Linked DNA regions of Homo sapiens: region 1 is linked to region 2. Evidence: fine-mapped expression QTL. Tissue or cell type: unexposed skin. Region 2 holds a variant in brackets; the other region holds the start of a gene. All regions are shown on one strand. Distances are from middle to middle. Region 1 holds the start of GLI2 (GLI family zinc finger 2). Region 2 overlaps GLI2 (GLI family zinc finger 2).

The links. PIP is the estimated chance that this variant, and not a neighbour inherited with it, causes the effect.
Region 1: GLI2 starts here. The variant in region 2 is fine-mapped to the expression of GLI2 in unexposed skin (GTEx, PIP above 0.99).

The regions. Positions count from the first base shown.
Region 1 is chr2:120,733,024-120,738,387 of GRCh38, reverse strand. GLI2 (GLI family zinc finger 2) reads right to left here and starts at 2,520. Exons shown (of 14, transcript NM_001374353.1): 1 at 2,103-2,520. It overlaps LOC124906073 (a long non-coding RNA gene), which reads right to left. Exons shown (of 3, transcript XR_007087219.1): 3 at 3,538-4,346. It overlaps LOC124907881 (a long non-coding RNA gene), which reads left to right and starts at 727. Exons shown (of 2, transcript XR_007087221.1): 1 at 727-1,827; 2 at 4,800-5,364. RefSeq lists enhancers at 315-815, 816-1,316, 2,435-2,604, 3,244-3,891.
Region 2 is chr2:120,856,206-120,861,569 of GRCh38, reverse strand. All of the region lies in intron 2 of GLI2 (GLI family zinc finger 2), which reads right to left. Among named protein-coding and RNA genes, the nearest start is that of GLI2, 120 kb to the right of the region's middle. RefSeq lists an enhancer at 4,560-5,209. The variant GGGC/C (reference allele first, on the strand shown) is at 2,542.

The DNA of each region.
Region 1 (5,364 bases), 120 kb after region 2:
GCTGGGCTTGAGTGGAATTCGAATCCCAGGGAAAAACATCTCCACAATTTCCTGTAACCCTCAAGAGAGAAGCAGCAAGTCTAGGAAAACAAAAGCAAGAACGATGAAGAAAGAGGCACAAGAAGCATAGTCAAAAAGAAGAGAAGGCCCCTGATGGATCTGGATTCCACATTCTAGAATGACTGCCCCAGGACAGACCAGAAGCTGGGAAAAGCCTAAATAAAGAGCCTCCAAACTCAAAGCAGCCAGGCATAGCCAAGGTGCCCCCCGTCCCTGTGGAGTCAGGCCCAGGTAGCCACACCGTGAGCTTCCCCCTAAACAAGCAACTGCAAAGCCGTTCCCAGGCCCCAGGGAGGGCCTGTCCCCAGACACAGGGAAACCCAGCCAAGGGAACTCCCAGCAAGGTAAGGAAATGGGCGGAGAGAAAGCTGGCAGGTGAGGTGGCTGGAACAAACTGGTCTCATCAGGGAGGCCTGTGACAAACCCGCCTATTCCTCCGCTTTCCCCGCTGTATATTTTGGATTTCACAGTTTATTTACTTTACTTTTTGGCACCGAGCCCCCTGAGCATGCCAATACAATATTTGTTTAAACACTATTTTATGCTGCTTGCGAGGGAAACGTTTACTTTCAAATTCTCCTACATCCCCCAGAGCCTCGTCTGCAAACAGCCTATGAGCGTTTTACAACTGCTCCCTTTATCTGAAGCTGTCGGGATTAAACCTTCACACGCCCGGCAAGAGCGGCGGAGAGGGGGCCCGGGACACCGCTGCGGCCACCGAGCTGCAAAGCCCGTGCCAGAGGTCGCGCACCGAGCGGGATGCCCGGGCTGGGGGACAGAGGGACGCCTACAAGACTCCCAGGGCGCGGGACCAGACAGTAGGGACAGGTCTACTTTTCCAGCTGGGATCAACTCTAGGAGCCACAGAACAATTACACAAAAGAGAAGGTAGTGGAAAGAGGCACCCTCGGGGGGGCTCGAGGTCCCCGAGAGCCTCAGCGACCGATCACCCAGGGTGAGGCGCACGGGCTCCATCCCCAGCTCCCCGCGCGGTAAAAGTCGGGTTTCCTAGGAAATGACAGCAGTTACCGCCGGGCTGAAAAGGCGCCGAGCTGGGTGGACTCCCAGCTCTCCAGCGCGGCGGGCGCGCTCACACTCACACACGCAAGCACACGCTCCCTCCCAGCTCCCCGCCCCCGCCCCGTCCGGGGAAAAGACTCCCCTCTCTAAACCCTTAATAGGATTGGCGCCCAACTCTCTCCGCGCCTCTCCCCATCCATCACATACAGATCAAGTTGCAGTAGTGGATTTTTCAAATTCCTCAGCAAATATACTTGTTGAGAGATTGTCGGGGGTGGGGAGAGACGATGAGTAGGGGGGCAGGGATGAAAGTGAGGTGGAAGGGGGAACCGGAGGACCCGGCAAAGGATTACGTGCGGATCCCTTTGGGAAGTCAAGCGGATCTCAGGGCCGAGGGCAGGAGAGGAGGAGAAGAGAGGCAAAGAGGGGGGGCCGAGGAGGAGAGCCCAGCAGAGGGGGAGGGGGCGGCCGGGCCGGGCGAGGGGGAGGAAGGATTGAGGAAGGAAGAAAGAAAGGCAGGGCTCCGGGACGCGCAGCGCGGAGAAGTGGAGTTCGAAGTTCTCAAGTGGCTGGCTGCAGCCCCTCCGCGCTCAGTACGCCCGCAGACACGCTCCCATGCCCACCTACGGCAGCTTCGGAGCATCCCAGCCTCCGATCCCACCCTCCACCCCCTGAAAAAACAGACCCCCGCCGGCGCGCGGAGGCCGGCTCGCTGTGCACCCCGAGAAGAGTGGTGCTCTCCCCCAGGTAGGGAGAGGGTGCAACATCGACCTCTGGCCACGAGCTCCAAGCCCCAGGACTCTCCTTACGTCCCCGCCCTGCTCGTCCAGAGCCCCAGGCGGGGTCGCGCCTACTAGCCTCTAGTCCCCCGAAGCCCAGGGCCCCGATCCCAAGGCCTAGGCGCCGGTACCCGGCCGAGGGACCCCCCGAGACGGCGCAGCATCCCAGTCGGCCCGCGCTTGGCCGAGGTGGGAGGCGCTTCGTCACGAAAAGCAAGCAAAAGAAGGCCAATGCAACTTTACCGAGAGAGACAAAAGTTTGCCTCTAGCACGCAGGTGGCCTCTCGGGCGCCGGGCGGTGGCTGTGGGCCCCCATCCCACCTTGGCTGGCGCGGCGACCCTCGGCTGGCTGCCTTGTGCCGGGGCTCCAGCCAGCCGGGGCGGGGCGGGCCAGGCAAGAGAGGGGACCGAGAGGCGGGCGGGCGCCGCGCAGCCCCTACCGCCGGCGAGCAGGCGGCTCCCCGAGGCTGCGGCGCGCCGCGCGGCCCAAGCTCTTTCCTCCGGCTCCTCCTGCGGCTCCTGGCCTTCCTCCGCGTTCGCAGTCGCAGCCGCCGCCGCCGCCCGCTCCTCCTCGAAGTCTCATTGATGGGAGTTTGAAAAAAAGTCCGCGGAGCCGTGCTGCCTCGGCTGGCAAGCGCCGGCACTTCTGCAATCCATCAGCGCCGCCGGACTGCGCAGCGCCCCCGCGCGCACGGTGCGGGCACACCCGGGCCCCAAGAACCCGCCAGCCAGCCCGCCCGCTCCCTGCCGGGGGACGCAGGGGGACCCGAACGCCGCCGGGGCGGGGGGAGGGGAAAGGGGGAGCACAGGGACTCTCCCCACCCAGCACCAAGGAAAGAAAACGCACCTACAAGGAAAGTTCGAGAAAGGAACCAAAGGACGCGCCAATCTCCGACACTTTTTTTAGACGACTAGGTGTGGGGGGGGGGGTTGGGGGTGTCGCTAACTCAAGTCAGATGAGCTCCGGAGCTGAGGGGCAAGGGCTGCTCTGTTTTCAATCTCTGAAATCCCCCCGCCCTCCCCACCTCCCACTTCCCTCCTCGGGGAGATGCCTGGGTCGCTGTTCCCAGGGCGCCCGCTTCTCTGGACGCCCGCGCGGAAGCCGGGGACGCCAGAGAAGGGACGCGGGGGCTGGGTCCACGCGGACCCTCTTCCCGCGGGCAGCGAGCGCAGGTGCCGGGGGTCCTGAGGCGTCCCCCGCCGCCGCTAGCCCTCGTCGCCATCTGAGCACACGCTGGCGAGAAACGAAGCAGCCTTCTAGGTTTGGTGCATGTGGCTTGCAGGGTGGGTTTTTGTTTTGTTGTGTTGTGTGTTTTAGAGACTCCACTCGAGCCGCTGAAGCCAGATGGAAGTAATCAGAACCCAACAACAACAGAGAAAGAAGGAAGAAAAAACTCCTCATTGAATTTTCTAGCCAAAGTGTATATGGGGCTGTGTGTGAAAGAACTTGCTTAAGCAAGCTCAGTGAGGAGCCCTGGGCCCTCAAGCCACACCACAGCCCGGAACTGGGCCGCCAGGCTTGGAGGAGAATTGGGGGCAGCTGGCTAAAGTGTCCTCCCCACACCCCCGGGCCTGCCACCCTCTCCAGGGCCCCTGGGCCTCACCCGAAGAGGGTCTTGGGGGGAATTTCTGGTTTTATTCTTCCTAACGTTTGTAGAACACTCTACCAAGTGCCAGGTGATGTTATATTTTCTTTGTATTATTGGACTTTCACAGCTCTGTAAGGAAGGTTCTCTTCTCGTGTTTTTACAGGTGGGAAGTCTGATGCTTTAAAAAGTTAAGTAACTAGTCTAAGGTCAGAGCACTCTGCCATCCTCCCAGAGCTTCGGGTGGTTGTACTGTAAGTTCAGTTAAATTTGCCCTGTTGGGCCGGGCGCGGTGGCTCACGCTTGTAATCCTAGCACTTTGGGAGGCCGAGGCACGGGGATCACCTGAGGTCAGGAGTTCAAGACCAGCCTGGCCAACATGGTGAAACCCCGTCTCTACTAAAAATACAAAAAATTAGCCAGGGATAGTAGCGCGCGCCTGTAATCCCGGCTACTTGGGAGACTGAGGCTGGAGAATCTCTCAAACCCCTTGGGAGATGGAGGTTGCAGTGAGCCATGATGGCGCCACTGCACTCCAGCCTGGGTGATGGAGCGAGACTCTGTCTCAAAAAAATAAATTAATTAAATTAAATTTTTAAAAAATTGCCCTGTTGAGGTGGGTGGAAGTGTCTCTCCCTTCAGCCCCTGTTCCTAAAATTGCATTTTATTTGAAATGCAAGGGACCCAATGCTACCCTCCCTGAGGGGATGTGACCTACACAGGCCCATTTCACCGGTGCAACCCTTTTTGTGGGTGGCTCTCTCCATATACCTTTTATCCTCTGCTAACTTTATTCTTTTACTTTTTAATCAAAGAGGATGCATTAGAACTTCATTCCTTAAGATCCTCCTTCCTCCTCCTGACATTCACTTATATGATGGAGCAACAATTTCTTCTTGACCTAGAGAAAAAAATATGCAGAAAAATATTAGAACAATTTGATGCTAATTTTGTTTGGGGGGAAAAGGTCGGCAGCATTTTTAAAAAGCGAAACTTGCATAAGCCAATGATTTAAAGAGAAGTTTGAAAGGGGCTTTTTCTTTAAAGATGATCAGATTCACCATTCCTCCGTGCTATTTGTTTAAATTCCTGCTGAGCTTTCAGAACACAGACTCTAAGGAGACAGAAAAAGTAAACTCTCCCTCCCCTCCTTGGCCATATTTTAATGACCCTATTCATATCTGCCCCATGACATGTAGGGAATCATTTCTCATTGCTGGAATATTAGCCGCGTTGGCTGATTACTTCATTATGAGCTTGTCTCTGTTGATTTCCTTGTGTTGTAAAGTTTGTGAAGAAGTTTAAACAAATCAATGTTTTAGGATATTTCCTTCTTCTCTGTTTTTCTTCTCAGACCAGCTCAACTCCTGCTGGACTCCAGGCACTCACATAACCTTTCCCGGCTTATTTTGGCAAGAAGATGGCTGTCGAGATGAAGACAGAATGTTTTTTGGTTGGAGGAGAACTCTGTAGACACCGTGCCTGAATCTCTAGATGGTCAGAAGTTTGGGCGCTGAAAAAAGCAGCAGAAGGTTTGGAGTGGAGGCAAACTGGTGTGGCCAGGGAAGCCTTCGACTGAGCGCTGGGACACCAGGTCCTAGTCCCAGATCTGGTACTAAGTGTATGACCTTTGGCCAGTCTGGTTCATTCAATCAGTACCAGGCACTGTGCTAAGTGGCTCGACACCACAGTGAGCAACACCTACAAGATCTTTCCCCTTAGGGAGCTTATGTTTCATTAATAACCACAAACAAACATATAATCACAAACTGGGTAAAGGAAAATCCACCGTGCTGTGGGAGCCGGTGATTGGAGACCTGAGCAAGCTGGGAGGTGAGCTTGGGGAGGGGAGTGGTACAGAGAAGGAGAACGCTTTCCTGGGGAGATGAGGTTGCACTGATAAGAAGGAATGAGGAATG
Region 2 (5,364 bases):
GGCTTGGAGACTGAACCACTTGGATGCTTTTTTGTTTTAAAAAGCAAGTTGAGTGAGCAAAAGATCTTGACAGGAGACTGGATGACTATAGCGTGGGCGACTCCAGCCACAGGCCCAGGACTGGGACCCCTCCCAGGCTCCACCTGGAGCTGAATCACAGGGGCAGCAGGCCCATCCAAGGGCCATACTACAGGAGGTGCCTCCAGGAAGCCTGCAGGGGCCTGCTGAGCTTCTCTCATGGGGCACACCTGCTATTTCATATTCACGTCAGCACCCACTACATATGGGGTTTCACAGGCAGGGCTGGAGTCTGGTAGAATATGAACCACACTGAACAGACAGCACAGAATGGAATTCGCACTCCGTCACTCATGGGCTACATGGCCTCAGAGACATCAGGAAACTCGGGTTCCTCACCTGTAAAATGGGTGATAGAGACTCTCTTGCAGAGGGTAAATGGGCTCTAATCATCACCCAGTCATTGCATAATAAATGACAGCTCTCATGATTAGGGTGGGCATCTAGGGCTTCAGGATTTTAAAGGCAGAGTGGTCCAGCTTCTGCCTCATTCATCATCATTTATATCATTTGCATCACCATTGCACACTCCTGTGTGCTGGCCATAACGGATCTCTAATTTTCACAACAATCCTTGGGCCAGGTACATTAACCCTGGCCATATTAGAAATGGGGTAATCCACGCAGGGCCTCAGGAAACCAAGTGGCCGAGCCAGGGTCTGACCCTAGCTCCTTCCTCATCACCATGTGTCTTGTACCTGGGCTGCCCCCTCACTGCTCTAGAGTCCCAGACGGCTCCCTGTTAACAATGGGCCAGGCCCAGGATCCATAAGGAACCCTGCCTCTTCCACACAGGGCCTTCTTGCAGGCAAACAGGCTACACCCAGGTCCCTCCTGCATCTTTTGACCCACCAGAACCGTTGCCTGAAATGCCCTCCCCAGATCTCTCCCTGCAGCTCAGCCATTCATCCTTCAAGCTATCCAACTCCTCAAAGTGGCCCGTGACCACTCCAGGGTCAGTGACCGCTGCTGTAGTCTGCTCCCAGAATCTCGAAAGGGAGCCAAGTCCCAGGGGGCCCTCTGAGCTTCTGCAATGGACACTGACAGCTGGCCTGATCATGGGCAGCCCCAGGGCCTGTGTTGGGGGCCTGAGAGAATCTCAGGACCTGAGGACAGTGAGCCCCACCCTGCAGATGAAGAAGCCCAGGGTAGGTGATAGGATGAGGTGAGACCTTCATGCAGCTCCTTGGGGGTACTGGAACTGACCGAAGCCATCCTCAGGGCACGCTGTGGTACTGACCGCTTGACCTTACTCTAAACACCTGAAACTGGAAGACAAATCTGAAGCCCACCCTGGTCCATTACCTCTGCTTCTTGCCTAGAGGACCTTAATGATGCACTCCGATGCACTCTCCTTGGTCCCCTTCAATCCACCCTCACACCACAGCCAGGAGGAGGGCGTGCACCTGCCTGACCACCACCATGACCTCTGGGGAGCAGACAGAGGGGCAAGGCTTGTGTTTCTACACGTGCTTCAGTACTGTTTGCACATGTTCTAGAAAGTCTGTATAACTTATTAATAACAAAAAAGGGAGTATTGGCCGGGCATGGTGGCTCACGCCTGTCATCGCAGCACTTTGGGAGGCTGAGGTGGGCAGATCGTCTGAGGTCAGGAGCTCCAGACCAGCCTGGCCAAGAGGCCAGGAGGCGGAGGTTGCAGTGAGCTGAGATTGTGCCATTGCGCTCCAGCCTGGGTGACAAGAGCAAAACTCCATCTCAAAAGAAAAAAAAAAAAAAGGCCGGGCCCGATGGCTCACGCCTGTAATCCCCAAACTTTAGGAGGCCAAGGCGGGCGGATCACCTGAGGCCGAGAGATGGAGACCATTGTGGCCAACATGGTGAAACCCCATCTCTACTAAAAATACAAAAATTAGCTGGGTACGGTGGTGTGCTCCTGTAGTCCCAGCTACTCCGGAGGCTGAAGCAGGAGAATCACTTGAACCCGGGAGGCAGAGGTTGCAGTGAGCCAAGATTGCACCACTGTACTCCAGCCTGGTGACAGAGCGAGACTCTGTCAAAAAAAAAAAAAAAAAAAAAAAGGAGGGAGTATCTGTAGGGCTGTTGTGAGGCAGAGCTGCATTCACTCAACACAGCTTCCCTGCTCTTGTTTCAGGAAACAGCCCTTCCTTCAAGAGGGGAAGGGGCCACCCTTAAGCTCCAATGACATTCCAAGACAAAAGGAGATGAAGCAGAGCAAGCTCTGCATTTGCAGGCGGGAGGCCTAGGCTTCTGCTTTTGCCATCAACTCAATGTGTGATCTCAGGGCCTGAGTGGCCTCACCTGTAAAAACGACAAAGGCCTCTCCCATCCCTGACATTTTCAGACGTTTTGGAGATCCTAAGGCAGAGTCCCAGAAAATAGCAAGTAACTTCAGAAGCCCAGCCCTAGGCAGTCCCCTTTAGAAGACAGAATACTGCTTAAGAAAACCCTTGTAATGAGGCTATTAGCCAGGTCGAGGGGAGG[GGGC/C]ACCCGCTTTACCGTGCCTCCGGAAAGCCTGGTTCAGGCAGAGGCACAGCCAGGGCAAGAACGCTCCGGTCCTGCCCAAGCCTGGAACACGCACACAGGAGACAACTCGTTGCAAAACCCATGGCCCTGGGGATAGAGTCTGCCCTACATTAAGAAACACTTTCCAAATGAGATAATTATTTAATAGGTAATAAATGGAGTTGGAGAGAGGACAGTGGGAATTCAGTTGATTAAATGCCTGTGCCCCCCAGCACTGCAGGCCCTCCCCAGAGCCCAGCCTCCTGCCCCACATCTCCTGACATCATCTCATGCTCAGCTCACCTCCACCATTTCCTGCTTATGGATAACCAGCCTCCGGCCACTGGGCTGCACAGAGGGCCTGAGCCACAGGGTCCACAGCAAGGCAGCAGGCTGAATCCAAGCCATCCTGCCCTCCAGCAACTCAGCAGCTTGTCTCTTCCCCCATCCTGCCCAGGGGACTAGCAGGCCGGTGGCCAAGAGGATGAGACAGGACAAGGGTGGAGGCGAGAGGCCAGAAACATCAGAGGCTGCCCATTGTTGTTCACTAGCTTGGCCCTGACCCAGAGCCAAGCTTCATCTATGCCCATTTTAACTCAACAAAGTAGCCTTGATCAGTCTTCAAATCTATGGACATGGCGGGGGCATGGGGAGAGACCATCACCCACTAGCCACATGCCAAGTACCACAAGGAGTACTTACATGTGCATTTAATTGTTCAGGTTTGTTTATATTTTGTTTCTTGACAAATAAAAACACTGAGACTCGGAAAGCTTAAGTGACTTGTTGAAAGCCACACAGCTGGCATCAACTCCGGGAACCAATCCCACCCCTGCCAGCTCCAAACATGGGTTCTTTCCCCAGCACCAAGCTGTCATTCTCCCCCGCCCCCTGAGCACTCAGCAGGTGTTCACCTAACGTGAGCTCCCTTCTCACCTCGACCACCCTACACAGAGGCCAGGTGATCCCAGTCTCAAACAACTGAAGTTTCCCAGTAACCTTTCCATCGACCCACAAAAGATGCTCTGAGCAACTCCTCCAAGGAGAGCTCTAAGAAAGGTGCGAGGGAATTAGAAGCAACCGCAACTCTGAGTGAAGGAGCTTACTATCTCAGTGGGCCACGAGGAGAAACAAGCAGAGTATCAGAAAATGGGAAGGAGGGTTTACAAGGGCCCAGGGCCACCATCAGGCTGTGCGTGCAAAAAGAGATCAGAAACTGGTGGTGGGGGTGGGGGTGGGGGGGTTGATCCCCTGTGGGCTACACTGAGGTGGGACCTGGATGAAAATGCTGGAATATAGCAGGTGATTGATGAAAAATGCATTGGATAGCGGGGTGGCCTGGTGGGTGGATGAATGGATAGGTGTTTGGGTAGGATGGATGGGTTGATGAGTAGGTGGGTGTTTGGGTGAGGTGGATCAGTTAATGGGTGGGTGGATGGATGGATAGGTGGGTGAGTGGGTGGGCAGATGGGTAGGTAGGTGGGTGGGTCGGTGGGTGGGCGGGCAGATGGGTAGGTGGGTGGCTGGGTGGGAAGATGGGTAGGTAGGTGGGTGGGTGAGCAGATGGGTAGGTAGGTGGGTGGGTGGGTGGGCAGATGGGTAGGTGGGTGGGTGGGTGGGCAGATGGGTAGGTAGGTGAGTGGGCAGATAGGTAGGTGGGTGGGCAGATGGGTAGGTGGGTGGGCAAATGGGTAAGTGGATGGGCAGATGGGTAGGTGGGTGGTTGAATGGATGGAAGCTCTCTAGTCAGGATATTTCCTCCTGTCATCTCTCTGTCACTACCCTCCTCCCCACCTCACTCCTCTTTCCTCCATAGCCATTTCAGTTTAGATCTTTGTGATGTGCAGCTGCCCACAGAGTGGGCAGTGGCTTCAGAGGTTAAGATCCACAGCCCTGCACGTCTTGGGTGCATCACTAAGCTCTAAGCCTTCCCCTGGTCTTTAGGCTAGCATGGCCAAAAGGCATGGAAGGATGAGCTTTTCTGCCCAGCTTTCCCTCCACCCCATCTTCCATAAGCCCCGGCCCACACCTTTATTATTTCTGCCTGCCCAGGCAGCTCCCACCTTGATATAAATCAGAGGGCCTCTGGGCCCAGTTCAACCCAGAGAGGGCTACTCCCTCCAGGCCTGAAGTGAGCCAGGCACACCAAAGGCCCAAGTCCTCATCAGAGGCCTTTCCGTCTGGATTTTATCCCCATTCCAGCCACACGAGGCTTCTTCAGACGCCCCTGAGGAATGCAGTGGGACAGCCAACAGAGCAGCCCAGGAAAGCGCTGGTCTGCAGAGCCATGGGAGGGCAGTGGTCAGGCAAGTAGAATGACAGAGGGCTCGGGACTGCAGTCCCTGGAGATTAGGGGGCCCTGGAGGTTCCGGTGCCATGAGAGTGTTCTGTAGGCAGCTGAGCCAGCTCCCTTACACAGTGGCTGGTCCCAGGTCAAAGCCAGGTCCGGACACTGCAAAGTCTACAGGCAGTGGAGATCGGGGCGGTGGGCAGGTCCACTTTAAAACGAGGCCCATGATGGTGAGAACCCCATCCAAATCTCTACCTAGGAGCCGTCCTGCTTCCTGGCCCGGGCACAGTCGGCCCAAACCTGCCATAAATGGGAGGCCTGATTCCCAACCTGGAGCCCCACAGGAAGGAGCTAGAAGGTGCAACAAAGGGTGGCAAGGTGAGTGGCACAGCAGCTCTGATCCCAGAAGGCGCTGCCAATGCCCACATTAGAACCTGCCTGAGCTGCTAGAGGTGGGCACCCCCTGCCCTCACTCCCTCCTGGCTGGCATCATGAGAGAAGCCAGGCAGGCA